Homo sapiens: one gene and its partners. The protein of the gene in region 1 purifies or fractionates together with the protein of each later gene. This does not show direct contact. Each region holds a gene or a part of one and is shown in the gene's direction. Other genes may lie near its edges. The genes, in order: RABL2A, ALMS1 and MTO1.

What was found.
Region 2: the proteins of RABL2A (region 1) and ALMS1 purify together in Homo sapiens (affinity purification with mass spectrometry, with the first as the bait; 2 studies listed by BioGRID). This does not show direct contact.
Region 3: the proteins of RABL2A (region 1) and MTO1 purify together in Homo sapiens (affinity purification with mass spectrometry, with the first as the bait; 2 studies listed by BioGRID). This does not show direct contact.

The regions. Positions count from the first base shown.
Region 1 is NC_000002.12:113,621,490-113,632,069, forward strand, and holds the start of RABL2A (rab-like protein 2A), read left to right. Parts: upstream 1-5,776; 5' UTR 5,777-5,911; exon of another isoform or gene 5,912-5,979; intron 5,980-6,125; exon of another isoform or gene 6,126-7,064; 5' UTR 7,065-7,117; coding exon 7,118-7,224; intron 7,225-10,580. UniProt on the Homo sapiens protein: Plays an essential role in male fertility, sperm intra-flagellar transport, and tail assembly.
Region 2 is NC_000002.12:73,379,336-73,390,095, forward strand, and holds the start of ALMS1 (centrosome-associated protein ALMS1), read left to right. Parts: upstream 1-6,500; 5' UTR 6,501-6,533; coding exon 6,534-6,857; intron 6,858-10,760. UniProt on the Homo sapiens protein: Involved in PCM1-dependent intracellular transport. Required, directly or indirectly, for the localization of NCAPD2 to the proximal ends of centrioles.
Region 3 is NC_000006.12:73,464,737-73,475,008, forward strand, and holds part of MTO1 (5-taurinomethyluridine-[tRNA] synthase subunit MTO1, mitochondrial), read left to right. Parts: intron 1-1,472; coding exon 1,473-1,672; intron 1,673-1,752; coding exon 1,753-1,870; intron 1,871-8,628; coding exon 8,629-8,918; intron 8,919-10,272. UniProt on the Homo sapiens protein: Component of the GTPBP3-MTO1 complex that catalyzes the 5-taurinomethyluridine (taum(5)U) modification at the 34th wobble position (U34) of mitochondrial tRNAs (mt-tRNAs), which plays a role in mt-tRNA decoding and mitochondrial translation.

The DNA.
Region 1 (10,580 bases):
TCCACCCAGATTGCAAGAAAAGAGAGAGGAATGGAGATGGCAGCACGAGCCCCTACAATAAAAGCAGATGTTTTGAGATCAGTTATATTTCTTCTGACAAAAATTAAAGACAGAAACCAAAGTTTAGCCTGAGGCTACAATTAATTGGGCAATAAGCCAGAGGCACATATGGCATAGACAGATTTAAACATTTCTCCCTTATATTAATACAAACACTAAAATTACAAATACATGGATTCCAAATAAAACAAATATTTTAAAATTTAATGAATAAACACTGGGGTCTACAGTAGTATTTGAAGGAGATCTCACAAACAGGTTTGGTTTTTGAAGGTTAGAACTGGTCGTCTAGAGAATTCATTTCATTCCAGAGAAATAAAGAGAGGAATTTCTTGGGTTCCTTCAGGAATGCATCTAGCTTTGCCTCATCTTTGTTTGAACTATGGATACGGCAGAAGAAAACATGAGGATTTCACAGATTTAAGGTGCAAAAAGTCACTGGGTTCTCTAAGAAGACTGGGATTCTTCTGCTGGAAAAATAAGTTTGTTGAGAAAAAATGAGTTGGAGGAGGCTGTTATTGAAGTGAAGCAGAATTGTTTTTACTAATCTGCTTATTACCCACTCTGTAGTGTGGAAACAAATTATTCATGCACAAGGTCCTCTTACTGTTCCTAGAATGCAGTGGAAAGAGAACAGATTAGTTTTCCTCCCTCAGAACACAACCCCTAGAAACATCCTACCTCAGATGAGATATTGCCTAATTATTTTCAAAAAACAGTAAAACATCATGGATGTAAATGTTTGCTGCAAAATAAATACGTGCTAGAAACAGAAGCATCTGGGTCACAGCTATATTAGAGCTACCTGTGTTCCCCTGTCACTGACATTAAAACAAAAATGTCCAATACGATCCTTCACAGTGTGGGAGAGGGGAAGATGAAGGATGGAAAGGCCAGGCATAAAAGGATTTCAGAATTTCCGTCCATAAGGAAGTGGCTTTGTGCACTGTCTGTTACTGCGTGCAAGGTGAAATTTGAAGAATGAAAACATGCAGTAACAAGGGCTCCTTTGTCCAACTCACCTCTCCAGATACCAAGTTTCAGACATGTTGCATTTTAATTGAAAGGTTGATATAATTTTTTTTAAAGAACACTTGCGGTGTTTGAAGTGACAAAGGCTGCTGTGACAAAAAAGCAGGGAAAGGGAATTTTTTTTTAAAAAAGCAAACAACAACAACAAAAACCCCAGAGAAAAGCAAACAACAAACAAACAAAAAACAGAGGAAGAAGTCAAACACCCTGGGCTGTGACTACTTCCAGGAAGGGGCTACAAGAGGCAGTTGGAAATTCTATTTGCTTTGCAACTGTGGGTTTTCTGGCCTGCTTCCTTTCTAAAGTATATTACTCTGCTTTTGGTTCATGAAGTTATCCATTTCTGTTTTCTGGAACAGCTATGTATTTTCTTTATCTATCATCTATCTATCTGTTTACCATCTATCTTTTCTACCTTTCGCTATCAAGAGCTTGGGTCAAGCAGGATAGAATTCCAGTGTATGTTCACTCTACCATTTAAAACAAGAGCTCTTGTGGGCATTCTCCATCACATCATAAACCTGAGCTTTCTAAAACAGAGTGTGGCAAACTACCATGCATGGACCATGTCTGACACAGTCTGCGTTTGTAAGTAAAGTTGTAATGGGACACAGCCAATACATGTGTTACATAATGTCTCTGGCTACTTTCACGGTATAATGGAAGAGCAGAGTCATTGAGAGAGAGACCATATGGCTTGGAAAACTTGAAATATTTAACACTTAGCCCCTTGCAGAAAATATTTGCTGACTCTTGTTTTAAAAGATCTCTGTTTAGAATGCTACCTATTGCCTTCTGGATAGAATCGCAACTCTTTACCACAATCGACACAGCTTCAGCCCTGCTTCTATATCCAGCCTCATCTGTTTCTGCTCCTCCTCCTTATTTTCCTTCTGGACATGCTGATGGATTGTCAGCTTCCCAGATGTGCGAGAATCTCTCCTCCCTTCCCAACATTCTCACAATCTCCCTCTGCCTCTCAAGAACTTCCTGTCCCATCTCTCATGACAAATCCTTTCTTCATTCTTTAAGATGCAGCCCCTTGGCTCTTTCCTTAAGGATGTCTGTCTGGCTCTATTTTGGGTGACGTGCTCCTTCTGCATCTCCCAGAGCCAGCCGGTGTGTGTCAGCTACAACATTTCTTTGCATCTCTGTGTCGTATATCACCAAATCTGCCTAAGCTTGCATGAGTCACTGCATGACAACTTCAGACTCCACCAGCATTGTCCCCACTAACCACAAGGCTTAGACATTCGTCCAGTATGCTCGGGGTTGTGGGGTGGTAGCAGTAACCAGCTGGTGACCATCATTTCTTACATCAGAATCAAATCTGTAGATCTCTGCCATTCATAAGTATTTGGAGTTTAAAATTAGCATAAAGATTTTCCTTAAAATAAGAACAAATGGCTTGAGTAGGCTTTTGGAACGTAGGATGTTTCCACTGGTTCATGTCTGTGTTCAGTATTCCCACATGAATCTAAACACGACTCTGCTCTTAGTAGCTGTGTGACCCTGGGACAGTCACTCAGTCTCCCTCAGCTAAATTTTGTTGTGTGAGTAATGAGGAGAGAGTTGTGATTTGTATTTAGTGAATAATAACAAACAAAAGGCATTTAGCTTTCTGGAACATGGTATGTAGTAGAACCTCATGAAAATACTAGCTGTTGATAAAACTAGACTGAAAAAAGCTTTCAAAGTCAACAACAGTATGAGGCAGTGAAGGACGTAGAGGAGAAGCTGCTGCTGCAGCCTGTAGCTCCTGGAAGCCCGTTTTGTCCATGATTTAGCAGGAACTCATTACCTTTCCATGAGGACACTGCCCACAGAAACCAAGGCCATTCTTTGAAGACAAACATGTCTTAATAGCCTTTACATTATGTAATAGTGTAATACAAATAATAATTTATTATTAGTAATAATGTGAAATTATTTACAGTACCATAACCCTAACCATAACCCCTAATCCTAACCCTAACCCTAACCCCTAACCCCTAACCCTAACCCCTAACCCCTAACCCCAACCCCTAACCCTAAACCCTAACCCCTAACCCTAACCCCTGACCTTGACCCTAACCCTAACCCCTAACCATGACTCTGACCCTGACCCTAACTCTGACCCTACCCTAACCCTAACCCCTAACCCTCACCCCCCACCCTCACCATCACCCTAACCCAACCCTAACCCAACGACTGTAAGCCGTTTACAGGAAACTCAAGCCAAAACACTACTTGTTTCCAACGTTTTGTTTGCAGAGGATTTACAAATTACACTCCAAAACAAGATAGCCACAGAGCATACTACTTCTCCTCTGAAGTCGCTCTGAGGGCCTCCGCATCAGTCCTAGAATTGGAAGATTGGTGGACAAGAACTGGGATGTTGATGGGGCACTGAATATTTGCTGGACACCAACCTCCTGTTACCTAACCTTACAGAGGGCCCAGATCTCACCTGCCCAAATCAGACATTTTAACACACACACCTCTCAACAGCAGGACTTACACACACAAAACTCTGAGGTAAAGAAAGGATTGTCTCAACTCCTTGGTGTCTCAACGAACTAAAACACTGCCTAGCGCAGGTGCACCATCAACCTTATTCACTAAATACACCTCTGTATATATTCTTCATCTTTGATTGTGGAAATGATATAATCAACATAAAAATGTTTTATAGATTGGACTAAAGACCTTTGAGGTCTCTTCACAGGATCCTATCTGGCGGACCCCCAAATCTGCCAACACAGAGGTCATCCGTAAACATGTGCAGGACAGAGGCCAGACAAAACCATCTCTCTCAGCCTCAAAGTGGCCTGGCAGTCACATGTGGGGTCTGGCCTGTGTGAGGAAGTCAGGCTTTCGGCTCCAGGCACCCTACTGCACCGCAAAACCAAGTTCTGCCTAACAAACAAAAAACAGCCTGCTCACTCTCCCTAATATCCCAGGTGGTAACCTAAGAGCATTATGCTAGACACCCCTCCTCCTCCACCCTCCATGTCCAAGCTATCACCAAGGTCCTAGCAATCTTACCTCCTAAATGTCTCCCAAATCCACTTCTCTCCCTTCAATGTCCAGGCCACCAGCATGACTTCTGCATGTGTGTAGCAGCCTCCGCGCAGGACGTAAAGATGCAAATCTAGTCGTAGGCTCTCTGAAAGGAAAATTTTGGGGACCCAAAATTACTAAGCTAAAGGAAAAGTCAAGCTGGGAACTGCTCAGGGCAAACCTGCCTCCCTTTCTATTCCAAGTCACCTATCTCCTCACTAAGATAGGTGCATATCTGATTCCCTGCTTTGGAGAGGCTAATCAGAAACTCAAAACAATGCAACCTTTGTCTCTCACCTACCTGTGACCTTGGAAGCCCCCTCCCTGCTTCCAGTTGTCCCCACCTTTCTGGATGGAAGCAACGTACTTCTTACATATATTGATTGATGTCTCATGTCTCCCTAAAACCAAGCTGTGCCCTGACCACCTTGGGCACATGTCGTCAAGACCTCCTGAGGCTGTGTCACGGGTGCACGTCTTTCTAAATTACCTGAAACCATCTCAGATAGGGTTCACACATCCCTTTCCCGAACCCTCCCAGGAGCCCCTCGTGGGCGCCCAGGTCCTGCCTGCTGTTGTGGCCCAGGCTCACCTGGAGCAACTCGACTCTTCGTTACAGCCTCGTGAACCTTTCAGTTCCTAAAGCTGTCTAGCCTGTGAAAGGAAAATGAATCTGGGGGCCCCAAAATCACTAAGCTAAAGGGAAAAAAGCTGGGAACTGCTTAGGGCAAACCTGCCTCCCCATCTATTCAAAGTCACCCCTCTGCTCACTGAGATAGGTTAATATGTGATAGCCTCCTTTGCGGAGGCTATTCAGAAACCCGAAAGAATACAACAGTTTGTCTCTCACCTACCTGTGACCTGGAAGCCCCCTCCCTGCTTCGAGTTGTCCCGCCTTTCCCGAGGGAACCAACGTTCATCTTACATATATTGATGTCTCCTGTCTCCCTAAAATGTATAAAAGCAAGCTGTGTCCCGACCACCTTTGGCACATGTCAAGACCTCCTGAGGCTGTGTCACGGGCGTGCGTCCTCAACCTTGGCAAAATAAACTTTCTAAATTGACTGAGACCGTCTCACATATTCGAGGTTCACAAGCCCATGCATGGGGACGTCCCCTGGGGTAGCGCCCCTCCTCCACTGAGCTCACTCGCTTCCTCCTTGTGTGTTTTCTTCAGAAGAAATTTCACAGCTACTTGGTCCACACCTGTCTGCCCCACAGGAACCTCTCTTCTCCACAGGCACATGGGCGGCGTACCTGCTGGGCTGTGTGGAGAGGACCGGGTTCCTCTCCTGATTCCTGCTCAGTTAATAACGAATGTCGACAAGTCGAGAAAATTGCTCAAATTTACCCCATCAAAGAATTAAAAACTGGTGAAAGCTTGACCTGCGCCCCCCACCCCTGACGTGCTCACCGCTCCACTCCCTCTAGGCGGGCGGCACCCGCTGAAGCCTCAGTACCACACCCACAGCCAGGAGCCCCAGTCCCGCACTCGGCCGCATGCGCACTCCCTGCGGCCCTCCCGCCAGGCGCCGCGCTGGGCAGCCAGCGCCCCGGCGGGGTCCTTCAGGCCTTCGGCCGGGCAGCCTCCCTCGGGGTCCTTGCGCGGTTGCGTAGCAGCTGCGAGGACGCGGGGCGAGCCGGAAGTGGAGTGCGCTGCGGTGCGAGCTGGGCCGGCGGGGTGGTTCGAGAGCGCGCAGAGTCCAGACTGGCGGCAGGGCCCGAGGGGCCGACCCGCAGCGTCCCTGGTCTCTCCAGCCCTCACTCGGAACCGCACGTGAGGGCAAATCCGCCCCGGTGGCTGGCTTAGCACGCGGGGACAGCCCCTCCGAGGCCTCCCTAGCGGTGTGGGCGAGAGGGCGTCCGGGTCGGGGGAAGCACGGAAAGGTGGCTTCGCGAGGCTGTTGTGGGGGGCGGGACGGGCAGCCTGGCGATGCCTGGACATGGTTGGTGGCCAAAAACATTTATCGAAAGATAGCATACCCACTTAGATGGCGAGGACATCGACAAGCAAGTCTTCGCCCGTAAGCGGTGGCTCACGCCTATAGTCCAGGGATGCCGAGGAGGGAGGATCGCTTGAGTCCAGGAGTTGGAGGCTGCAGTGAGCCGTGATCGCGCCACTGCACTCCAGCCTGGGCGACAGAGTGAGACCCTATCTCTAAACAAAAGAAAGAACGTCTTCAAGCATGGAGCCATGAAGCTGGATTTGGCTTTCTGTCGCTCTCTCTACAGGGTACAGGTGAAAGGGGGCAGACCCCTCATCATGCTTTCCAGGCATCTGCCACTTCCCAGGAATTGTCTCCCTGGATAAACAAGGCGAAGTCCCTGGCTGTGCAGAAGCAGTAGCTGTGTGGTGGCACAGTCAGGAAAACTCGGGGGCCCTGTTGGTATTTTCTACCCCTGACCCGTGTGCATACTTCTGTCGTAGCTCTCACCACAGTAGACTCTGCTATCATTGTGTCTTCCATCCTCTGAACCCTGTGCAAGGTCTGCTCATGGTGAATGCCCAGTAAGGCTCACCTATTGCTGCTATCTCATCATCATATCATTTCTATGTGCCCCCCTAGCTAAGAGTCTGGACTGTGGTTACATTCTCAGGAATGTCTGCAAAGTCATATTTAGGTGTGAGGAGAGTAAAACAGAGCTAGACATAATGTTGCACACAGCCTTTGGCACTGGATGCCTGGTGAATGTCTTGTGCAAATGGGTAACGTGAGGAGCAGCATTTGGGGTGCGCAGGACTTAACTATTTGTGTATAACATATTACTGATGCCTGTGTGTCATCCTCTGCTACTCCAAGTCTAGTAGCCAATTGCATACCATATCTCAGTCTGGCACTGAGGGAAGCAGTCTGGATGGAGGTACAGCTGGAGATTTGGTTGAGGGGACTTATCTCTGACAACAGCCTCTTGTTGATCTTCCCAGACAGTGACAATACCCTCCCCTCCCTTGGGCTGGACCCCTCTCTACAGCTAGGAGCCAATGGCAGAAGACAAAACCAAACCGAGTGAGTTGGACCAAGGGAAGTATGATGCTGATGACAACGTGAAGATCATCTGCCTGGGAGACAGCGCAGTGGGCAAATCCAAGTATGTTGGGAGATTAGGGAATAAATACCAGCCCCAGAGAGGGTCCAGGTCATTTAAAAAGTCCTCCAGAGGCAGAGGAGCATGGCTTCTTGGGGCTGGTGAAGGAGCAGTCTTGGCTGGAGCCCAGATGTTCATGGGGGAACGAGGGGAATCACATGACCCGTTGTGTGTGTCGGGTGGAGGGGGCAGGTCATAAGGACTGAGGAATTTGAATGTTTCCTCTGAGCCCTGAGAGAACGTGTGGAGCAACTGAGGACATTGTATGTGGTTTGTGGGCTGAGGGATGGCAAGGGCGGGGAGTGGGAATGGAAAGACAAAAGTGACTATGCCACCGTGACAGATTGGGTAAAGGTGGTAAAGATGCTTTCTTGGAGGGACTCTCTGAAATAGAGAAAACTGGGTAGAACTGACGATTGACTATAATCATTGTGAAGACTGGCTTCTTCTTGTAATGAATTTCGGTGCCTACATGCCACCTGGAGAGGTGAAGGGAGGCTCTGCCGTGCTGCCAGCTTGTCTCCATGAGACGTCCTAGTTCTCACGCCTAGGACTGCTGAGGGCACATGTCCATTTCCGCCTTCATAGCATGACGGTACACTTGCCCCTGCCCAGAGAAGTGGTCACGTTTATCTCCCAAGTACTCCAGGCCCACCTTGGTTTCTACCTTCATTTTTATAGTCAAGTCCTTTGACTCAGGTAGCTGTGAATAATTCTCTGGGGGCTTTGCTGGTTTTTAGGCCATCTCCATGAATTTGAATTCTCTGTCTCTCTCTCTCTCTCTCTTCCCCACCACACAATCACACACTGCAGCTCTGGTTTAGAATTTTTTTTTTTTTTTTGAGACGGAGTCTCGCTCTGTCCCCCAGGCTGGAGTGCAGTGACGTGATCTCGGCTCACTGCAAGCTCCGCCTCCCGGGTTCACACCATTCTCCTGCCACAGCCTTGCGAGTAGCTAGGACTACAGGCGCCCGCCACCACACCCAGCTAATTTTATTTTTGTATTTTTAGTAGAGACGGGGCTTCACCTTGTTAGCCAGGATGGTCTTGATCTCCTGACCTCGTGATCCGCCCACCTCAGCCTCCGAAAGTGCTGGGATTATAGGCATGAGCCACCGCGCCCGGCCTCTGGTTTAGTATTTTATAGTTACTTTGACCATCCTCAACAGCACGCCTGTACAGTAAAAGTGAGGGTAGGTGTTGTAGTTTGGGAAGGTTACCCAATAAATAATACCCCCTTTATCCCCACTCAAGTTTAAAACAACAAAGAATAGAAATGGCAGGCAGGTGTAGAGCAAATTGCCACTTTAATAACAAACAGAGCTTTCGGAGAATGTATCTTGGTATACCCAGCTCCCAAGTTCAATGCTAGTCTCTTTATATGCCTCATTTCAAACAGTAACAAAAAATAAGAATCCAAGTAGTTAACTTGACGTCAAAGATTACCATAACATTGGCCTCCACAGACACAACAATTAGAAAACAAGCCAGTCTTCATCCACTAGCAGTATCTCAGGCAAAAGGTTGTCCCAGATACAAAGACCATGATGGAAACAGTGCATCTGAGGGAAGGTGAGTGCATGAGAACACTGTGGTTCAGTTTTGATTGGACTCAAGAACTACTGCCAATTTTCAGTATCTCTAACCTATGAATCTAAACTCGGTTGGGCTAAAACACCCATTAAGAGGTTGACACATCAGGCTGTGGTGAGCTATGATTGTGCCACTGCACTCTAGCCTAGTGACAGAGCAAGACCCTGTCTCAAAAAAAAAAGTTAACACTTGTGTTCATCATATCTGAAGGGCGTCAGTTGTACACGGCCTCATTTCTAGATAGCAATGTTGTGGCAGTGCGGCCTTCTTGCAGAGTTCAGAAATTTACCACGGTAGCAGCCCCAGTCACCAGGCTTTCTTTAAGGTGCCTTTTTTTTTTTTTCTCATGCAGCATGTTCATGCTTCTTGATTCCACTCAGGGCTCTGTTGGTGGGCTCTGATGACAGCTCCCCTACCCCCTGTGAACAGGTGACCTCAGACCTGGGCACTGCCTCCTGTGGAAGGCTTTTCCTTTGCTCCTGCACATGCCACCTTCCTGAGCTGCCATTACAGGTGTGAGCCACTGCACCCGACCAGATTTCTTTTGACCCCAGGTGATCATACTGCTTAATAACAAGACATGGTGTTTTTTTGTTTTTTTGGTTTTTTTTTGAGACAGAGTCTTGCTCTGTCACCCAGGCTGGAGTACAGTGGGGCAATCTCGGCTCACTGCAACCTCCGCCTCCCAGGTTCAAGCAATTCTCATGCCTCAGCCTCCTGAGTAGCTGGGATTACAGGCATGCGCCACCATGCCTAGCTAATTTTTTTGTATTTTTAGCAGAGGTTTTGCCATGTTGGCCAGGTTGGTCTGGAATTCCTAACCTCAAGTGATCTGTCTGCCTTGGCCTCCCAAAGCGCTGGGATTACAGGTGTGAGCCACCGCACCCAGCCAACAAGACGTGGCTTTCTGATTCCATCTTTAAGAGTAGTTAGGTCCAGATGTGTTGTCTTTTTTCTTTGATAGCTGTCTAACTTGGCCTTTAGGGTCTTCCATTACCGTTAATGATTGCCTATCATCGTTGTGCAAAGAGGGCAAAGGCACACCCCCCCCACCCAAAACTAAGGCCACATGGTGTGAGTACAGACTAGAGTGATGGGGGAAACTTACAAGCAGAAAGGTCACACCATGTGACTCCCTGGGTCCCAAGCTCTCATTATCCTGAGGGAGTTGTGCTTAGGCCACCAGTGACCAGTGCCTACTCTAAATATTTTTGGGAAAAGAAGACAGGGAACATCTGTGTATGTGACAGTGACAGAGGCAGCTTCCTAGAGCCTCCGGAGGTAGGCCTGCTCTGTTTTTGAGCTCAGGCCTGCCGAGCTGGTTCTCTGCTAAGCTGCAGAACGTTGGGAGGGAATGAGTCTCTGGGGCCTCTTTTTCCCTCCTTCATCCTGTCTTCCAGAGGCAACTTTTCCTTAAGAAAATCCCTCTGTGCCTGTGTTTTTATTCTTTCACTGCTTCTGCTTGGATGAGGCAAGTTTATGGATCTCTCCTCTTCCTCCTGCACTTTCTGAGCATGTGCCCTCTCAAGACAGTGTTCTGAGCTTGAGTCTTTTTCATTGACCATCTTAACCTCTGGCCACGGTAATTTCTTTGTGTAATTTTCTACGTGATCTAAGAAGATGATGTGTTTTCTTTATAGTAAGGGTGCTGTTTCTTTATAGTTATAAATAAAATCTATCCTCCTTTTACAATTCAAGCTGCAGTTTAAATATCAGAAGTATAAAATCATGGTTAGAGTGTATTACACTGACAGGCAAGCAGTGAC
Region 2 (10,760 bases), about 40 Mb from region 1:
ACAGCCTCTCCTGCAGGTACACTGGCCTCCGCTGGGCATGACTGAGGTTTCTCATGTGTGGTTTTATCTCTGAAGCACTAATTCCTCCATTAGCCTCTACAGGTGCTTCTGCTCTTGCCTGACAGACCTTATGTTCTTCTGTGGATGTCCAAGCTGCCTTGGGAAATCTCTGGGTACCACCACCAAAGTCTTAGAGCCCTCAAAGTGCCTGGATTTTCCAGACATTTAAGGTAAAGTGGGGGAGGAGAATGCCTCTTTTTCTCTTTAAATCTCTTTTATGAGAGGAGTACCAAAAGGGCATTTATGTATTTATTCATTGGACAAACATTGAGGGCAACTATACATCAGGCATAATTCCAGGCGTTAGAGCTAAAGTGAAAAAGACAGGCTCCCTGCTTTCATGACACTTACATTCTAGTGGGTGGAGACAGAATATAGACAAACATATGTAATGTCAGCTAATAATAGGTGTAGGAATAAAGCAGAGTCATGGGTTGGAGAATGATGGAGTATGTCGGGTATGTCTGCTGTTTTATATCTTAGACTGGATGATCAGAGAAGACCTCTGACATTTGATCAGGAAACTTAATCAAATAAAAGCGTGAGCAATGGGGGATATGTGGGAACATAGCAAATGCAGACTCTGTAGCAGTGTGCACATGCTACAGTGTTTTATGGTTTTAATGACCAGTTCCTTCACTTTTTCCTGTCGTCTGCCTTTTGTCTTATGCTTGCCTTCTCAAACCTCAATTAAGATTTTTTTCTATAACTGACAGGTTTTTTCATCTATCATCTTTGTTTATCCAGAAACAGAGAGAAAAGAAGAAGAAAGACAAGGAGGGGAGGAAGAGAAGCAAAAGGAGGAGGAGGAGAAGAAGGTGGCAGCAATAACAATGGATGTAGGAGGGGGAAAGGAGGGCATGCTGCCCTTGCTCCTTCTTTCATTGCCTTTTGGCCCCTAGATGAAGAAAGGGCTGCACCACGAGAGAGGCAATTCTAGTCTGAGCAGTCTCTTGGGCCTGTGGGCAAGTTAGATGTGGGGCAGCAGGAATCTGCTCCATTTTGAGTTGTCTGGCGTTTTTATGTACTCATTTGGTGCAGTCCTGCTATGGGGATTGATAGCCAGGAACCTGCACCATGAGTCCCAGGTATAGGATCCTCTGTTCAAAGTATATGGGTAGGTCTCATGTTCCATATGGGCCTCCACCTATCTTTTCCCATTCTCAGGACCCTCAGCTCCTTTTGGCAGCAGCATCTTAATACCTGCTGCTACTAGAGGGAAACATCATTAGGAGCACTTGCTTGGCCATAGTAGGTTGGTACCAGCAGGCAACATTCCTGTTTCCTAGTACAGTGCCTGGAACCTAGAAAGTACTCAGTAAACCTTTGATCAGGAGGTACTGTGCTTCAGGACAGAAACCAGGATTCTGGTAACTAGGAATACATTCCACTCATGGGAAGTTTAAAACTGGCAAGCTGTGTGTAGGTATGTGCCTGTAGTCCCAACTACTCAAGAGGCTGAGTGGGAGGATTGCTTGAGCCTAAGAGTTTGAGTCCAGCCTGGGCAATAGTAAGACCTTATGCCTAAAAAAAGATAAAAAATTAAAACCAGGGTAGAACTAGAACTTACATAATTGCTTCCTTTAGTTTAATGTGTCAATGTTCTCTAGCAACCCAGTGTTGGTTTCACTATTCATTGCAACAAGGGAGAACGCACACCATGGGAGATCATGAGAGATCTCCATATTGGGATGTTACTAGGAGTTATAGGATTTGCCTTGTGTTAGGTGATTTTAGGGGGCAAGTTTTAAAGGCCAGTGCTTTTCTGTGTATTGGATGCTGTCAAGATGAGGGAGTAATTCTATGATTGGGCATCTTAATAAATTTTATTCAGAGGAAAAGAATACAGTGATGGGCTGGGCACAGTGGCTCAAGCCTGTAACCCCAGCACTTTGGGAGGCCAAGGCGGGTGGACTGCTTGAGCCCAGGAGTTCAGGACCAGCCTGGGAACCATGGCGAAACTCCATCTCTACCAAAAAAAAAAAAATTAGCTGAGCACGGTGGCACACACCTGTTGTTCCAGCTACTCAGGAGGCTGAGGTGAGAGGATCACTGGAGCTGGTGAAGTCGAGGCTGCAGTAAGCCATGATCGTGCCACTGCACTCCAGCCTAGGTGACAGCAAAAAAAAAAAAAAAAACAAACCACAGTGATGGTAGAGCTATAATTGATTTAAAAAAACAGCCATCAAATTAACTGGAAAAGGAGGGTGTTTGATGTGCACAGTAACGTTGTTTTTGTCTGTGCTTAGGCAAGGTTATGAAATGGTCTTGTCATGTCTCGTTTCTTCAGTCACAGAAAGACCATGTGTGATGTCGGTGTTCTGTGAGATTATTTATGCTCAACAGGAGAATATTGAGGGATGATGGTGAATGCCAGGCCAGCATGTGACAACCCTGAGGCTTAGTTACCTGTGTCAGACCAGTTCCCAGGCACCCTAGATTTATTTAGTGAGTCCTCCAGTTGGTCAAGGGTAGACAAAGTCAGGCCACAGGACCATTAATCTATGATATTCAGATTTTCACTATTGCTAAATTTATGCTGATCTGGAGGATGCAGTCTGTAGTTGGGTTAATTCCGCCTTCTGTTGTAGGATTTGTTGAATCATATGATATGACAATGGCTGTGCAGAAACTAGGGCTGTGGATAGGATACGTTGACCAAGTGCAAAAGAAGCAATTACCAGAAACAAAATGATTATCCATCTTTGTAAAAAGTCTTGAAGACAGGGACCCAGATTATAAAGTCCTGGCAATGAAAACATGCCCCAGAATCCAGCTGAGTCTGTTTTTAGGGAGCCAGGAGGATTTTCTCTTTTCAGTTTACTCATGTTCTACTGACTCTGTAGTATGTTCTACTGGCCCAGTAGTATGTGAGTATGGTGACAAGTGTTGCTAAATACAAACTCCTCCTTGGCCAGCTAAGAAGAAATCAAGGGTTATATAATTATCCATGAAAACTCTGGCTAAGGAATTCAAATTTAAGTGGTTTTCTGAGCTGCTATAGCAGAAGTTTTGCTATCTATGGGGTCTGCTAAGGTCAAATACCTCTCTTGGATCTGATCTCTTTCTGTTGTATTATCTTTGTTGTAGGAATTTCATTCACAGAGTACACATGAAAAATGAGTCAGTTATCCCTCCTGGGAGTTCTCCCAAGTAGTCTGTGATTGTGTGCTTGCTTCATTTTGTTGGTTTCTGGGTGTTCTTTTCAAAGAAACACAGTCTACTGGAGGGGTGGTAATTTTAAGCACTGGAGGGTCTCTAACAATTAGCTTCAATATAAAGGGTAAGTTAGTGGGCAAGCCAGATGTTCCCATAAATAAGTAGTACCCTAGGGGAGTACAGACTGCATTGGGAGGATAAGGGCTATTTAGCACATCAGGGACAAGCCAACTTTCTTTCCCTCAGGATAAGCAGATTTCTTGGATGAAGTTAAACAGGTTTCTCCAAAGCAGGCTGGAATGTTTTGGAAGAGAATGACCTGAGTAGTGTATAAAGAATAGCCCCAATATTAGTTTCTATTCCTGAAGGGCTAGGTTTTTCTCATAGGATTGTAATGACTTCAGGGAAACATTCTGTTGAAGTGTAGGTCAAGGTCCAATTTTTAGAAGACTGAGGTTTGGGATGAACTTTGTGGGGAATGCTTAAGTACCAGAAGTGACCTACAGAAGAAAATCTACTTGATGAAGTCTATGAAAGCACAGTTATTAAATTTTGTCAACAATTCCTTAAAAGCAGTAGCTACGGTTTGAGAAAAACACTCCAGAAAGTGTCTCTTTTCTTTTCTTTTTTTCCTTCCCTTTCCTTTCTCTTTCCCTTTCCCCTTTCCCCTCCTTTCCTTTCCTTTCTCTTTCTCTCTTCTCCCTTTCTCTCTTTCTTTTTTAGATTGGGTTTCACTTTGTTGCCCATTGGCACGATCACAGCTCACTGCAGTCTTGGACTCCTGAGCTTCAAGGACCCTCTTGCCTCAGCCTCCTGAGTAGCTGGGACTCCAGATACGTGCCACCATGCCCAGCTAATTTTTTATTGTTTTTAGAGATGGGGGTCTTGCTACATTGCCTACGTTAGTTAGACTCCTGGTCTCAAGTGATCTTCCCACCTTGGCTTTCTAAAGTGCTGGAATTACAGGTATGACCCACTGCACCTGGCCAAATAATGTTTACTTTAAGTAGTAGAACATAGGGAGTCAAAAGTAACAGGATGAAGATAAGGGTTATCTCCCCGAGAAATCAATTTGTTAGTTAATCAAGGGTGTCAAAATGCAATAAGCAAGATTAGTGGTAGGGTAAGAGATGCCAAGGAATCAGAAATTAATCTTGTCCTGTTGTCTTGGGTATAAACTGCCCATTTCTGCAGTAAGCAGCTTCTGGGGAAGTCCCAGGAATCTTCAGTTTGAGGTCTTCCAATAGTATGGGATGTCCGGTAGCCAGGAGAAAATGATGCATGTCTTTTTAGTTGTGTAATATGAATCCAGGGATCAATGTCTTCTAGTTTTACTCCTGGGTCAGTTGTTGATAGTACCTGACATTTTTTTTTCTTGCATTGAGGCTCAAGGGAAATTGTTTTCTAATGCTTTTTCAGAAGACCAAATCTCTAACTTCAGAAGCTGCTTAGGTGGGTGCTTTGAGAATGCAGCTTCCATCTGTTGTTGATAAAGCAGGAGTTAATCTTAGAAGTCTCCTGCAGCAATTAGTGATAACAGCTTATATTAGTAGCATCTAGTATTGGAAGTAATTCACAAATACATGAGGAAGCCTGTTATTAACTCAGAAGGAGATAACTTATGGGCCTTAGAATGGACTGACCTTATTGCCATCAAGGCAAATAGAAGTACTTTGGGCTTTGGAAGTTAGATGGAAGTTAGAGAACTTTGAAAGCTATTTTTTAGAATTCTATTAGTTCTCTTTATCTTTCCTGAAATTTGTGGATGCAAAAAGATAGCGGAGTTTCTAAAAAGGTAAAGCTTTACAGTTATTTAATATCAGTGAAATGTGTGTCCTCTTACTGGAGATAAACATTGAGATTTCACATTCAGGAATACAAAATTAATAAATTCTTTTCTACTATTACAGTAATAGGTCTCCGGCAAGGAGAACCCCTAAACCCCTTAAGAATAAATAACCCTAATGTACTCATAGTCCATTTAGAGGTGTTCAACAGAACTCCAAGACTGGGCTCCAGTTCATGTTCTACCCTTAAAGTTTTGCCAGGATTGGGTCATTGACAGGTAGGCAGGACATACATCCTTGGCAATAACCCTAAAATTGCCCCACCAACATTGGTTCAGCATCATTATCAATGTATCTCTACTATTGTGGGTAATACCATGAAGACTTTTTGCTGGACTCCACTTTAATTATGGCTATTTCCTTTGGTAACAGTGAAGCATCTCAAGATTATAATTATTATTTAAAATTTTAATTTAAAAATTTTCCCCATAGGTTATTGGGGGTACAGGTGGTGTCTGGTTACATGGCATCTTAAGATACTTTAATTTGCCATTCATTTCGTAGAGGTTCCTGAAGCGGTCAGGAAATCTTTGTTTTTAAAGCACTCCAAAGTCATTGACGAACCACCAAAACATATGTACTATCAGTATAAATATTTGCTCTGTTATCCTTTAACAGCTGGTTGGTCTAGGCCAGGGCAATTCCTACACTAACAGAGGACCTGGGATGGCATACTGAGTCAGCCACTTACTAGGTAAGAAACTTTGGGCAAATTAATTTTTTTAGCCTCAGATTCTTCATACATGAAATAGTAATACTTGTCTCACAGAACCGTGAGCATCTAATGAGTTATTGTACAATAACCAACCTATCACTAAGTCCTTCACATTGATTATTTCCTTTAATTATCACACCCATCCTATGCGATGGCCTATTATCATCGTTTTATAAACACAAAGTCACACCACTTTAAGTGGTGATGCCAGGATTCAAACTCCGATCTTTCTGATGCCAGTGCCCAGTTCTTAATCCCTCTAACAACCCGTGACACTTTTCCACGGTTAGGTTCAAGCGCCCACCATACAGCTTGACACTTTAGGAGATACTCAACCTTTAAAACTTTATAATTTGCATGTGTGATTATAACGGGTACGTCCTAGAGTTTGATCTCTTCTCTGTGCAGGGGCGAAACTCGACCCCAGCCGAGAACTACACTGTCCTTGCGCGGGGCCCTCTGCGCCCCGGAAGGCGCCCAGTCCCGGTTTATTGTGAGCTTACAGTACAGTTCGCAAGGTCCCGGCCGGTGACGGCGGCGAGGCGGCAACGTCGCCTGTAGCAAACCTCCGCCCTAAGGCGTTCCCGCCGGGCCTCGCGCGGCGTCCCTAGCAACGCGCGCGCGGTCTTCCGGCCCCGCCCAGGCGGGCGGCACTGCGCCTAAGCTGGGCCACAACCGCCAGTCAGGGCTCTCCCCTTCCCCTCCCTCCCCCCCTCCTCCTCCTCCTCTGCCGCCCAGAGCGAGACACCAACATGGAGCCCGAGGATCTGCCATGGCCGGGCGAGCTGGAGGAGGAGGAGGAGGAGGAGGAGGAGGAGGAGGAGGAAGAGGAGGAGGCTGCAGCGGCGGCGGCGGCGAACGTGGACGACGTAGTGGTCGTGGAGGAGGTGGAGGAAGAGGCGGGGCGGGAGTTGGACTCCGACTCTCACTACGGGCCCCAGCATCTGGAAAGTATAGACGACGAGGAGGACGAGGAGGCCAAGGCCTGGCTGCAGGCGCACCCCGGCAGGATTTTGCCTCCGCTGTCGCCCCCGCAGCACCGCTACTCGGAGGGCGAGCGGACCTCCCTGGAGAAGGTGAGGCGGGCCGGGGAGGGGTGTGGAGCCGCGGCGAGTTGGGGGTGGAGGCTGGGCCCCGAGCGCTCCGCCCGCCCGCAGGTCACGCCGCCTGACGGAGAAAACGCGCGCAGCTGAGGCTAGTAGGCGGCCCAGACTCCAGCCCAGGTGCCGGCCGGCTGCTCCGCGTCTCCCAGGCTTTGTGGCAAAGACTTCTCGTTTCCTCCCCCTCGGTGGGTCCTGGGCCTTTTGAACTCCCGTAGACGTTCAGGGGAGCCTGCATTCCCCGTGAGAAACGCTGAGAGAGGACCACGGGTGTGTCGAGCCTTGAAGGAGGGAAAAGGCGGTGTAGGACCGGAGCGAGTGGTTGCCTGGGGAGCATCTTGTTGGGGAGACAGTGAACAGATGAGCTTGACTGAATTGCAGGACTCCCCTGAGGGAGTAATGTGGATAATGTACACCGCGCGATCACTTAGTCTGGAGAGGCTCCCCGCGGGTTTTCCTCCCCTGGACCATCATTTGTAGCAATAAAGGGGTTCCCCAGCCGATAGGAGGGGCTTGGAATGCAGGAGGCTTGTGATGCGGCTCCAAACAGTCTGCAAAACTACAAAGCACAGATAATACACAATGGAGAAAGCCGATTTCATGGTAGACCCCCGAAGATCATTTTGAAAATAACTCTCCATTTAATTTGCTGCCCTTACCCCCCTTTTTTTAACTTACTGCTTTTCGAGGAGCAAGACCTGCCCTGCTCAGTACAGTAGCCACTGGCCACGTGTGGCTTTTTACATCTTAAAGAGAAAACTATTATAGTTTTGAGTAAGAGTTAAAAATAAATTAAATGAAAAATTCCATGCGTCTGTTCTTACCGGTTTTCAAGTGCTCAGCAGCCACACTAGGCTAGTGGCTACCATGTTGGACAGAGCAGATAATGGAACAGTTCCATCATCACAGACAGTGAAGGTGTAGAGTTTTGTCACTAATGAGCAGTAGTTGTTGTTTTGTCTGGTGAATATTCCAGGGGGTACTTAATTCATTGAACATGTATTATTAGAATTCACCATGTGCCACACATTGTGCTGGGTGCTAAGGAAAGCTTGGTGAACCCAAACATTTTTGGTCTCTGCCTTCCTTGTGTTCATGGTCTAGACAGGGAGGCAGACAGATTTCAGATGATCACATAAAGTGAAACTAATATATGTGCTAATATTCTATGAAAGCATAAAGTAAGATAATCTGGCCTTGTCAGTGAAGTTGGGAAAGCCTTCTTGAGGAGGTTATGATAGAGCTGATATCTGAAGACAGTTTAAGGTTAATCAGGCAAAGGGGAGGGAAAGAGCCGTCTAGCTGAGGGAAAAACACATGAAAAGGTACTGTTGATGAGAGAGAGCATGGCATTTTCCAGGACCCAGAAGCCAACGTGGTTTGAGCACAGACTGCAAGGCTTTGTGTGCTATGCCAAGGATTTAGGGGCTTTATCTCTGGAGCTTTGGGGAGTTGAAGAAAATATTTGAAACGAGGGGATGTATGATAAGTTAGGTGTTTCAGAAAGGTCAGGTGTATAGCAGAGTGTGGAACAGCTGTGATAGCAAGGTGGGATGGGGAGCAGTAGCCATAGGTCAAGGGCATAAATTAGGAGACCATTGCAGCATTGCCCGGCAAAAGATGATGAAAGTTTGGAATAGGGAAGTGTTGGTGGATACAGGGAAAAGTGGACTGATTTGAGAGATATTTAAGAGGCAAAATCATCATACTTAATAACGGATGGGATGTGAAAGGTGAAGTAGCCAGGTGTTAGGTTATTGTTTGAATGGTTGTGCCAATATTAAGATATGGCCAGATTTATGGTGGAGGTGGTGGCTGTGAGTGGGTGGTGGAATTGGTTGGGTGAGTCTTAAGATTATGAGTTTGGTTTTGAAGATTGAAGGAGAAGGCTGGGCTAGAGATTTCAAGTTGTAAGTCATTTACATAGAGACCATAATTAAAGCCACACTTGTTGACTAGGTCTTCTAACTTTTATTTTGTCCTGTGACTTCTTGCTTGAATAACTATTAATATTCAAACTTTATCTTGAAGCCTAGAGGAGGAGTTTTTTAAACAAAATTTTAATTTAATTTTAGATTTGGGGGTACATATGCACGTAATTAACATGGATATATTGCATAATGGTGAGGTTTGGGCTTCTAGTGAACCTCTCACCCAAATAATATACCTTTGTACGTGATAGTGTAACATTGTACTTGATAGGTAATTTTTCAGCCCTTCTCTCCTCCTTCTGGAGCCCCCAGTGTCTGTTTATTTCCATCTTTATGTCTGTGGGTACTTATTGTACCCATTTATCTTTATGCCTCTGTGTACCCATTGTACCCACTTGTCTTACCAGTGAGAGCATGTGGTATTTGATTTTCTGTTTCTGAATTGTTTCACTTGATAAATAGCCTCCAGGCTCCATCCATGTTGCTGCAAAGGACAGGATTTCATTCTGTTTATAGCTGCATAATATTCCACAATGTATATTAATACATACTACATTTTCTTTACCCATTCAGTTGTTGATGGACACTTAGGTTGATTTCATGACTTTGCTATTGTGAACGGTGCTGTGATAAACATATGAGCACAGATTTTTTTCTTTTTTTTTAATGGCGTCTAGCTGGTGTAGAACACCTGGGCTCAAGTGATACTCCGCCTTGGCTTCCCAAAGTGCTGGGATTACAGGTGTGAGCCAGTGTGCCTGGCTCAGATGTCTTTTTGATGAAATGATTTAATTTCCTTTGGAGAGATACCCAGTAGTAGGATTGCTGGGTCAAATGGTAGTTCTGTTTTGAGTTCTTCAAGAAATCTCCATACTGCTTTCCATAGGAGTTGAACAATTTACATTCCCAACAACAGTGTATACGTGTTCCCTTTTCTTCTCATCCTTGCCAACATCTGTTTTTTGACTTTTTAATAATAGCCATTCTGACTGGTGTGAGATGGTATCTCATTGTGATTTTAATTTGCATTTCTCTGATGCTTAGTGATGTTGAGCATTTTTTCATGTTTTTTGGCCGCTCGTATGTCTTCTTTTGAGAAGTGTCTGTTCAGTCTTTTGCCCGCTTTTTAGTGGGGTTATTTGTTTTTTCTTCCTGTTGATTTGTTTGAGTTCCTTATAGATGCTGGATATTAGTCCTTTGTCAGATGCATAGTTTGCAGATATTTTCTCCCATCCTGTAGGTTGTCTGTTTACTCTGTTGGTAGTTTATTTTGCTGTGCAGGAGCTCTTCTAGTTTAATTAAGTTCCATTTGTCTGTTTTTATTTTTGTTGCATTTGCTTTTGAGGTCTTAATCATAAACTTTTTTCCTAAGTATTCTTTAGGATTATTATAATTTCGGGCCTTACATTTAAATCTTTAATCTATCTTGAGTTAATCTTTGCATATGGTGAGAGATAGGGACCCAGAGGAGGAATTTTTAAGCTAACCCTCTTTTACTACAGCCAATGTGAGAAAATTATTTTCCTGTTTAATAATGAACTATCTTTTTTTTCCCCCGCCGAGATGAAGTCTTGCTCTGTTGCCCAGGCTGGAGTGCAGTGTCACGATCTTGGTTCACTGCAACCTCTGCCTCCTGGGTTCAAGCAATTCTCCTGCCTCAGCCTCCCGAGTAGCTGGGATTACAGGTATCCACCACCACGCCTGGCTAATTTTTGTAGTTTTAGTAGAGATGGGGTTTCACCATGTTGGCCAGGCTGGTCTTGAACTCCTGACCTGTGATCTGCCTGCCTCAGCCTCCCAAAGTGTTGGGATTAGAGGCATGAGCCACCGCGCCCGGCCTCTAATCGTGAACTATCTATGGGTAATAGAAAATCTTACTTCTGAGAGCCCAGAGTATTTTTTCCTCCCCACAGTTTTTTCTTTCCCCTGAGAAAAATTAGATATTTTC
Region 3 (10,272 bases), on another chromosome or scaffold:
AGGCAGGAGAATCACTTGAACTCGGGAGGTGGAGGTTGCAGTGAGCTGAGATCGTGCCATTGCACTCCAGCCTGGGCAACAAGAGCGAAACTCTGTCTCAAAAAAAAAAAAAAAAAAAAAAAAAACTTTTGGAGGTCTTGATTCTTGATGTGGTGGCAGTGGATATGTGGATATTGACATAACTTGCCCATCCCTCCACCTCCCACAAAAACTTTTGAGGTAACCACATGGGTTTAGACCTCCAGGTAAGACTGGGTAAATGTAAGGGAAAGGTATAAAATATGGTCTTCACTCACAAGAAATTTGTAATTTAATTATATTTAATTCTGCAAAGTAAGTGCAAAAAGGAGATATCAGATGGCATTTATGGAAGACATAATTGGTTGTAACTGAACCAGTGCCAAGGGGCTTCTTTGTTTTTTCTTTTTTCTTTTCTTTTTTTTTTTGAGATGGAGTCACTGTTGTCACCCAGGGTGGAGTGCGATGGTGCCATCTCGGCTCACTGCAACCTCAGCCTCCCAGGGTCAAGCGATTCTTTTGCCTCAGCCTCCCAAGTAGCTGGGATTACAGGTGCAAACTGCCATGCCTGGCTATTTTTTTGTATTTTAGTAGAGACGGGGTTTCACCGTGTCGCCCAGGGTGGTCTCAAACTTCTGAGCTCCAGCAATCCACCCTCTTTGGCCTCCCAAAGTGCTAGGATTACAGGCGTGAGCCACCACACCCGGCCCTGTTTTTTATTTATTTATTTATTTTTGTCCTTATTTATGTTGAAGGACTAGGGACTTCTTACAAGTGTGCTTGATTTGGTAGATTCCTCTGGTGCTGTATCAAAAAAGAACAAATTTAAAAACCAAGTATACTTGGTTTAGAAAGGTTTCATGGGGTAAGGATTACATGTTTGAAAGGAAAAGGCAACCTAGTGAAACAGTAAAAATATGCATCAAGGAAGAGATTCAAAAGAAAGTTCAGGCCGGGCGCGGTGGCTCACGGCTGTAATCCCAGCACTCTGGGAGGCCGAGGTGGGCAGATCACCTGAGGTCAGGAGTTTGAGACCAGCCTGGTCGACATGGTGAAACCCGTCTACCAAAAATACAAAAATTAGCCAGGCGTGGTGCCGGACACCTGTAATCCCGGCTACTCGGGATGCTGAGGCAGGAGAATCGCTTGAACCCAGGAGGCAGAGGTTGCAGTGAGCCGAGATTGTACCACTGCACTCCAGCCTGGGTGACAGAGTGAGACTCCATCTTAAAAAAAACAAAAGGAAGTTCAGGAAGTGGTTTGTCATCCAGGTTGCCCTGGACACTTTTGCATCCCATTGGGTCTTTGGGATTTTCTTTGTAGTATATCTTTCACGTTTTCTATTTTTTATCATATGAGATGATTATAGTCACCTGTATAAATGTTTCCTTATTAAGTAGTCACTATGTGCAAGGTGCTCATATATTTATTTTGTTTATGTCTATTATCTTTAGGTCAGATGTCATGTAATCCTTCCTTTGGTGGCATCGGAAAGGGACATTTAATGAGGGAAGTAGATGCCTTGGATGGCCTGTGTTCTCGCATCTGTGACCAGTCTGGTGTACATTATAAAGTATTAAACCGGCGTAAGGGACCAGCTGTGTGGGGTCTGAGAGCTCAGATTGATAGGAAACTCTATAAACAGAACATGCAGGTAAGAATAGGGCATGAGCACAGGAAAGATTATAGTGATTGTTTAATTACCATGTTTCAACTGGCATTTTCTTTTGACAGAAAGAAATCTTGAATACACCACTGCTTACTGTTCAGGAGGGAGCTGTAGAAGATCTTATTCTTACAGAACCAGAGCCTGAACACACTGGGAAATGCCGTGTCAGTGGGGTTGTTTTGGGTACGTATTGGTTATAGATGGTGTATGATAACAGCATATCAAATTCCATGTGAGAAATTTATTTTAGAGCAAAGTGTGGAGATATGTTGCTTATTCAAGGAACTTGTTGCATTTTCTCTACCTGGATGAGGAAAACTATATAAATAAATATGTTTCTCTTTTCATCTTGGCATTTATGATGCTCAGTCAAATTCTAGGCTCATCAGTACCATGTTCCATCTTAGTGTAGAACTTTGTAATCTGCATATTTATGTCTCCCTCTCTCCCCATCTTTCTATTGTAATTTCTGTTTTTTCTGGTTCTGACTTTAATTTTTTAAAAAATTCATATTTTAACAGCTTATATATATTTTTATGTAAAAGAGTTATGTATGTTTTTTATCAAAATAACTCATGCATATAATTTTTTCTTAAAATATTAAAAGGGTCTGGGCATGGTGGCTCATGCCCGTAATCCTAGCACTTTGGGAGGCCGAGGTAGGTGGATTGCTTGAGCCCCAGAGTTTGAGACCAGCCTCGGCAAGATGGCAAAACCTCATGTCTACAAAAAAATACAAAAATTAGCCGGTGTGGTAGCAGGTGCCTGTAGTTTCAGCTACTCAATAAGCTGAAGTGGGAGGATTGCTTGAGCCCAGGAGGTTGAGACTTCAGTGAGCTGTGATTATGCCACTGCACTCCAGCCTGGGCAACAGAGTGAGACCCTGTGTCAAAAAAAAATAAAAAATAAGTTTGGGTGTAGTGGCTCACACCTGTAATCCCAACACTTTGGGAGGCCAAGGCAGGCAGATCACCTGAGGTTGGGAGTTCAAGACCAGCCTGAACAACATGGAGAAACACATCTCTACTAAAAATACAAAATTAGCCAGGTGTGGTGGCGCATGCTTGAAATCCCAGCTACTCAGGAGGCTGAGGCCAGAGAATCACTTGAACCCAGGAGGCGGAGGTTGTGGTGAGCCGAGATCACACCATTGCTCTCCAGCCTGGGCAACAAGAGCGAAACTCTGTCTCAAAATAAATAAATAAATAAATAAATAAATATAAAAGAAATTTAGAAATTTATGTGGGAAAACAACCATCTCCTTCCCTGGAGACAGACACTTCAGCTTTTTTAGTTGTCACTTATTGTATATACTTCCATATTTCTGAATAGCAGGCTTATCTTTTTACTTCCTAATTTACAGTTCTAGACATTATCTATTAACTTTTTTTGTTTGTTTGTTTTTGTTTTTGTTTTTGAGACGGAGTCTCACTCTGTGCCAGGCTGGAATGCAGTGGTGCGATATCGGCTCACCACAACCTGAGCCTCCCGGGTTCAAGCGATTCTCCTGCCTCAGCCTCCTGAGTAGCTGGGACTACAGGCACGTACCACCATGCCCAGCTAATTTTTGTATTTTTAGTAGAGATGGGGTTTCACCACGTTGGCCAGGATGGTCTTGTTCTCCTGACCTTGTGATCCACCCGCCTCGCCCTCCCAGAGTGCTGGGATTACAGCTGTGAGCCACCGCACCCAGCCATCTATTAACATTTTTTGAGACAGAGTCTGGCTCTGTTGCCTAGGCTGGAGTGCAGTGGTACCATCTTGGCTCACTGCAACGTTCCCCTCCCAGGTTCAAGCAATTCTCCTGCCTCAGCCTCCCAAGTAGCTGGGGTTACAGGCGACTGCCACCATGCCCGGCTAATTTTTTGTATTTTTAGTAGAGACAGGGTTTCACCATGTTGGTCAGGCTGGTCTTGAACTCCTGACCTCAAGCGATCCGCCCACCTCAGCGTCTGAAAATGCTGGGATTACAGGCATGAGCACTGTGCCCAGCCTATTAACTTATTATTATGGTAATTCTCTTTAATGTCCAATTTTCCTTCCCTCTCTCCTTCTGATATAATTATACCGTAATTTTTGGTTGATAGTATTTACATTATTGACTAAGTATTGTTTACTGCATGGAAGTGTATTATGTTTGTCCCTTTCTTATGCTTGGTTTTGCCTTGAGTTAATAATTGCTTTATTTTATTTATTTATTTTGAGACAGAGTCTCACTCTGTCACCCAGGCTAGAGTGCAGTGGTACGATCTTGGCTCACTGCAACCTCCATCTCCCAGGTTCAAGCAATTCTCCTGCCTCAGCCTCACGAGTAGCTGGGATTACAGACAGCAGCAACCACGCCCAGCTAATTTTTGTGTTTTTAGTGGAGACAGGGTTTTACCATGTTGGCCAGGCTGGTCTTGAACTCCTGACCTCAAGTGATCCGCCTACCTCCACCTCCCAAAGTGCTGGTATTATAGGGGTGAGCCACCACACCTGGCCTTCTCCAGATTTTTTAGTTCTGTTTATGTGTTTGGGCTGCTCTCTTTCATGTACACAACTTCCTTTAAGTATCTAGCGAACTTTGGTTTTCTGTTGACTTCTTTGCGTTTTTGGTTTTGGAGACAGGGTCTTACTCTGTCACCCAGGATGGAGTGCAGTGGCACTATAATCGCTCACTGTAGCCTCCACCTCCCAGAGGTGATCCTTCCACCTCAACCTCCCAAGTAGCTGGGACTATAGGTGTACACTACCACACCCAGCTTATTTTCAATTTTTTTGGAGACGTGGGATCTCCCTATGTTGCTTCCCTGTGTTGCCTAGACTGGTCTTGAACTCCTAGGCTCAAGTGATCCTCCCACCTCAACCACCCAAAGTGTTGGGATTACAGGCATGAGCTGCCATGCCCAGCCTGTTACATTTTTAAATGAGGCACTAGGTCGGGCATGGTGGCTCACGCCTGTAATCCCAGCACTTTGGGAGGCTGAGGCGGGCGGATCACTGAGGTCAGGAGTTTGAGACTAGCCTGGCCAACATGGTGAACCTGTCTCTACTAAAAATAAAAAAATTAGCTGGGCGTGGTGGCATGCACCTGTAATCCCAGCTACTCAGGAGGCTGAGGCAAGAGAATCGCTTGAACCCAGGAGGCGGAGGTTGCAGTGAGCCGAGATCGTGCCACTGCACTCCAGCCTGGGCGACAAGAGTGAGACTCCATCTCTAAATAAATAAATAAGGCGCTAAAACACTTAACTGGAAGATTTGTGTGTACACAGTTAATTTTATTGCCTGGCTGATTCTGGTGGTGATTAAGACTTGAACTGCTGGACACGGTGGCTCACGCCTGTAATCCCAGCACTTTAGGAGGCCGAGGTGGGTGGATCACCTGAGGTTGGGAGTTGAAGACCAGCCTGACCAACATGGAGAAACCCCGTCTCTACTAAAAATACAAAATTACCCAGGTGTGGTGGCACATGCCTGTAATCCTAGCCACTCGGGAGGCTGAGGCAGGAGAACCACTTGAACCCTGGAGGTGCGGGTTGTGGTAAGCCGTGATAGTGCCACTGCACTCCAGCCTGGTAACGAGCAAAACTCCGTCTCAAAAAAAAAGAAAAGATTTGAACCAGCCTTTTGGTTTGGTGAATTCTCAAATATCAATGTCTGTTAGTTCTCAGAAGAATCAGTTTTCCACCTAAGAGAGTAATATGGCTACCCACTAGCGTTCTGGGAACAAAATGGTAAGAGAGGCTGTGCCAGGGAGTGTCATCTTTTATTTTATTTTATTTATTTATTTATTTTTATTTTTTCTTTTTATTTATTTTTGAGACAGAGTCTCACTGTGTAGCCCAGGCTGGAGTGCAATGGCGTGATCTCGGCTTACTGCAACCTCTGCCCCCCAGGTTCAAGCGATTCTCCTGCCTCAGCCTCTCGAGTAGCTGGGACTACAGGCACGTGCCACCATGCCCGGCTACTTTTTTGTATTTTTAGTAGAGATGGGGTTTCACTGTGTTAGCCAGGATGTTCTCGATCTCCTGACCTTGTGGTCCGCCCACCTCGGCCTCCCAAAGTGCTGGGATTACAGGCATGAGCCACCGCGCGTGGCCCAGGAGTGTCATCTTTTAAAATACATATCTTAATTCCCATTTTCATTTTTATTATAGATTTATTAATTTTCTTGATTGGGAAATACATACTTAGGGCCAACAACTTAAAGGCTACAAAAAGCATATAGAGTGAAAAGATAGTCTGTCTTAGCTGGGCATTATGGGCATTATGTGATTATGGCTCACACCTATAATCCCAGCACTTTGGAAGGCCGAGGCAGGTGGATCACCTGAGGTCGGGAGTTTGAGACCAGTCTGGCCAACATGGCGAAACTCGTCTCTACTAAAAATACAAAAATTAGCCAGGCATGATGGCTCACGCCTGTAGTCCCAGCTACTCAGGAGGCTAAGGCAGGAGAATCACTTGAACCTGGGAGATGGAGGTTGCAGTGAGCTGAGATCTTGCTACTGCACTCCAGCCTGGGTGAGAGAGCAAGAGTCTGTCTCAATAGAAAAAAAAAAGATAGTCTGTCTCCTTCACTTTGTCCCCTCAACCAGCCAGTTTTCTTTCTCAGGAGCATTTGCTTTGTTAATCTGTTGTGTGGTCTTTCTACCTAGGCATATGTACATGTCTTCATGCATATGTATATGTATTTTTTGTTGTTTTCACAAAATCGTAGCATATTATACACACTGTTCCTCTGTACCTTTTTTTAAAAAAAAAACTTAATCTGTGTTTGCTTTGCTTTTGGAGGCCATGCTTTTTTTTTTTAAGTTTGTGGGTTTGTTCCGATGGTTACCTTAAAAGCTATGATTTTATATATAATATAATATGCTCACTGACTTCCCTCAAGTAACAATTACTAAATTAGTTTTACTTTCATTTCCTTTTCTCCCCCGACTTTCTTTATTTTCCAGATTTAATGGTTATATTGTTTTTATTAGTATTTATGTTTATACCCTTAAATTGTTTATTTTTTTATTTTTGAGACAAGTTCTCTCCCTCTTTCTTAGGCTGGAGTGCAGTGGCATGATCACAGCTCGCTGTAGCCTCGACCACCTGGACCCAAGTGATCTTCCTGCCTCAGCCTCCTGTGTAGCTGGGACCACAGGCATGTGTCACCACCCCTGGCTAATTTATTATTTTTTTTTGTAGAGATGGGGGTCTCACTATGTTGCCAGGACTGGTCTTGAACCCCAGGGCTCCAGTGATCTTCCTGCCCCAGTCTCTCAAAGTGTTCATATTATAGTCATGAGCCACTGAGCCTGGCCGATTTAATTTAATATCTTTAAATGCTATTTTGTGATCCTGTCCATATTTTATAGGCCCAACAATAACAATTTTTTTGTGGTAAAATATACAAACCATAAAATGTACCATTTTAACCATTTTTAAGTGTACAATTCAGTGCTATTAAGTACATTGACAGTGTTGTGCACCCATCACCACCAACGGTCTCTTGAACTTTTTCATCATCCCAAATTAAAATTCTGTACCCATTAAACAAAAAGTCCCCATTACCTGAAGAATAAACCTCCATTTTACTGTAAGGTAGAGCTATCTGAGGACAAAACCTTAATGTGTAAATTTCAGCTGTTTCTTTCATTTTCTGTTCCAAGTTTCATTTCTACATTCCTCCTCAGTTCTTATTCTCAGTTCTCTAATTTCTGAGCCTTTGCAGGGCAAATTAGTTCATTCTCATTGATATATCTTCTCTTCAGATATTAATACTTAAGTTATAGCTATCTCCCCTCTGCTAGATGAGTTACCATTCTTCCAAACACTTTCTATCTTTCAAAAATACATTGAAATTTCTCATCTTCTGACTGGTTCTTTTTCATTACTTGTCCTTTTGGTTTTATACCTTTTTTATTCCCCTATTTAATTTTCTTTGAGTTTTAGAAGGGAGAAGAAATGAGAGGTTGTATGCCATATTTATCCTGAAGTCTAAAATTAATTAATTTTTTAAATTAATTGAGACTAACTTTTTAGTGCTGATATGATTTTAGGTACATGTGAATTGGTGATAACACATTGTATTCTCTCTCCTAGATTGCTTAGATTGAGATTGATAACATATTAGCCTTCTTACTCATTTAAAATTCTTTGTCTGGGGTAGGGGAAATGGGAAGATACTGCTCAAAGGTTATACATTTTCAGCTGTAAGTTGAATAAGTTCTAGCAATCTAGTGAGCAGTATGGTAACTGCAGTTAATAATAATGTATGATATACTTGAAATTTGCTAAGGGAGTAGATCATAAGTGTTCTCACCACACAAAACGTGTAACTATGTGAGGTGATGGTTATATTAATTAGCTTGATTATGGGTATCATCACAGAAGGTATACTTGTATCAAAACACCATGTTGCATACTCTAAATATATACAGTTTTTTATATGTCTGTTATATGTCGATAAGTCTTGAAAAAACAAAAATATTAAAAAAGATTCTCAAGTTTTTAAAGACTGATAGTTTTTCTGTAGTTGTAATGTAAAATAGTCACATTCCATTTTGATCCATGGTAACAATTTAAAAAATGACTTTAGGCCGGGCGCGGTGGCTCACGCCTGTAAGTAATCCCAGCGCTTTGGGAGGCAGAGGTGGGTGGATCACCTGAGGTCGGGAATTCGAGACCAGCCTGACCAACATGGAGAAACCCCATCTCTACTAAAAATATAAAACTAGCTGAGCGTGGTGGCGCATGCCTGTAATCTCAGCTACTCGGGAGGCTGAGGCAGGAGAATTGCTTGAACCCGGGAGGCGGAGGTTGCAGTGAGCGGACATTGCACCACTGCCCTCCAGCCTGGCGATAGAGTGAGACTTCATCTCAGATAGATAGATAGATAGATAGATACATAGATACATAAATACATAGATACATAGATAATGACTTTATTCTTTTTTCTTGTTATTTAGTGGATGGAAGCACAGTATATGCAGAGAGTGTGATTCTGACTACTGGGACATTTCTGAGAGGCATGATTGTAATTGGATTGGAGACGCATCCAGCAGGACGTTTAGGGGATCAGCCTTCTATAGGATTGGCTCAGACACTGGAGAAGTTAGGGTTTGTGGTGGGAAGGTTGAAGACTGGGACTCCACCCCGAATTGCCAAAGAGTCCATTAATTTCAGTATTCTAAACAAGCATATACCGGACAATCCATCCATACCATTCAGCTTTACCAATGAGACAGTATGGATTAAGGTAAGATACTTTACGAAAACCTGGCTTACAGCTGGTATTGGCTATTCACAGCAGGAAGTACTGTAACTTTTTTTTTTTTTTTTTGGCAGCAGTTCACTTTATAGCACTATTGCTTATAGTGCAAAGAAATGATTTTTTTTTTTTTTTTTTGAGATAAGGTCTCACCTTGTCACCCAGGCTGGAGTGCAGTGGTACAATTATGGGTCACTACAGCCTTGACCTCCTGGGCTCAAGTGATCCTCCCACCTCAACCCCCTTGAGTAGCTGAGACCATAGGCATGAGCCATTGTGCCTGGCTTTTTAAAATTTTTTTGAGAAATGGGGTTTCACTATGTTGCCCAGGCTGGTCTCGAACTCCTGGGCTCAAAGGATCCACCCCCCTTGGCCTCCCAAAGTGCTGGGATTGCAGGTGTAAACCACCGAACCCAGCCAAAGAAGTTATCCTTTTTTTTTTTTGTGGTGGAGACTTGCTCTGTCACCCAGACTGGAGAGCAGTGGCACGATCTCAGCTCACTGCAACGTCTGCCTCCTGGGTTCAAGCAGTTCTTCTGCCTCAGCCTCCCGAGTATACAGGCACGCGCCACCACACCCGGCTAATTTTTATATTTTTAATAGAGACAGTGTTTCACCATATTGGCCAGGCTGGTCTCGAACTCCTGACCTCGTGATCCACCCATTTCAGCCTCTCAAAGTGCTGGGATTATAGGCGTCAGCCACTGCACTCAGCCTAAAGAAGTAATCTCTAAAAGGGATTAGCTAACTTGGCTAATTGGGTATTTCCCCATAAATCGTAAATTTCTTTTTTTTGTTTTTTTGAGACAGTCTCAGTCTGTCGCCCTGCTGGAGCGCAATGGTGAAATCTTGGTGCACTGCAACTTCCGCATCCTGGGTTCAAGCGATTCTCCCACCTCAGCCTCCCTAGTAGCTGGGATTGCAAGCACCCGCCATCATGCCTGGCTAATTTTTATAGTTTTGTAGAGACGGGGTTTCACCATGTTGGCCAGGCTGGTTTTGAACTCCTGACCTTAGGTGATCCGCCTGCCTCAACCTCCCAAAGTGCTGGTGCTGGGATTACAGATGTGAGCCACTGCACCCGACTTTTTTTTTTTTCTTTTTTTGAGACGGAGTTTCGCCATTGTTGCCCAGGCTGGAGTGCAATGGCGCAATCTCGGCTTACTGCAACCTCCGCCTCCCAGGTTCAAGCAATTCTCCTGCCTCAGCCTCCTGAGTAGCTGGGATTACAGGCTCCTGCCGCCACACTGGCTAATTTTTGTATTTTTAATAGAGACGGTGTTTTGCCATGTTGGCCGGGCTGGTTTCAAACTCCTTACCTTAGGTAATCCACCCTCCTCAG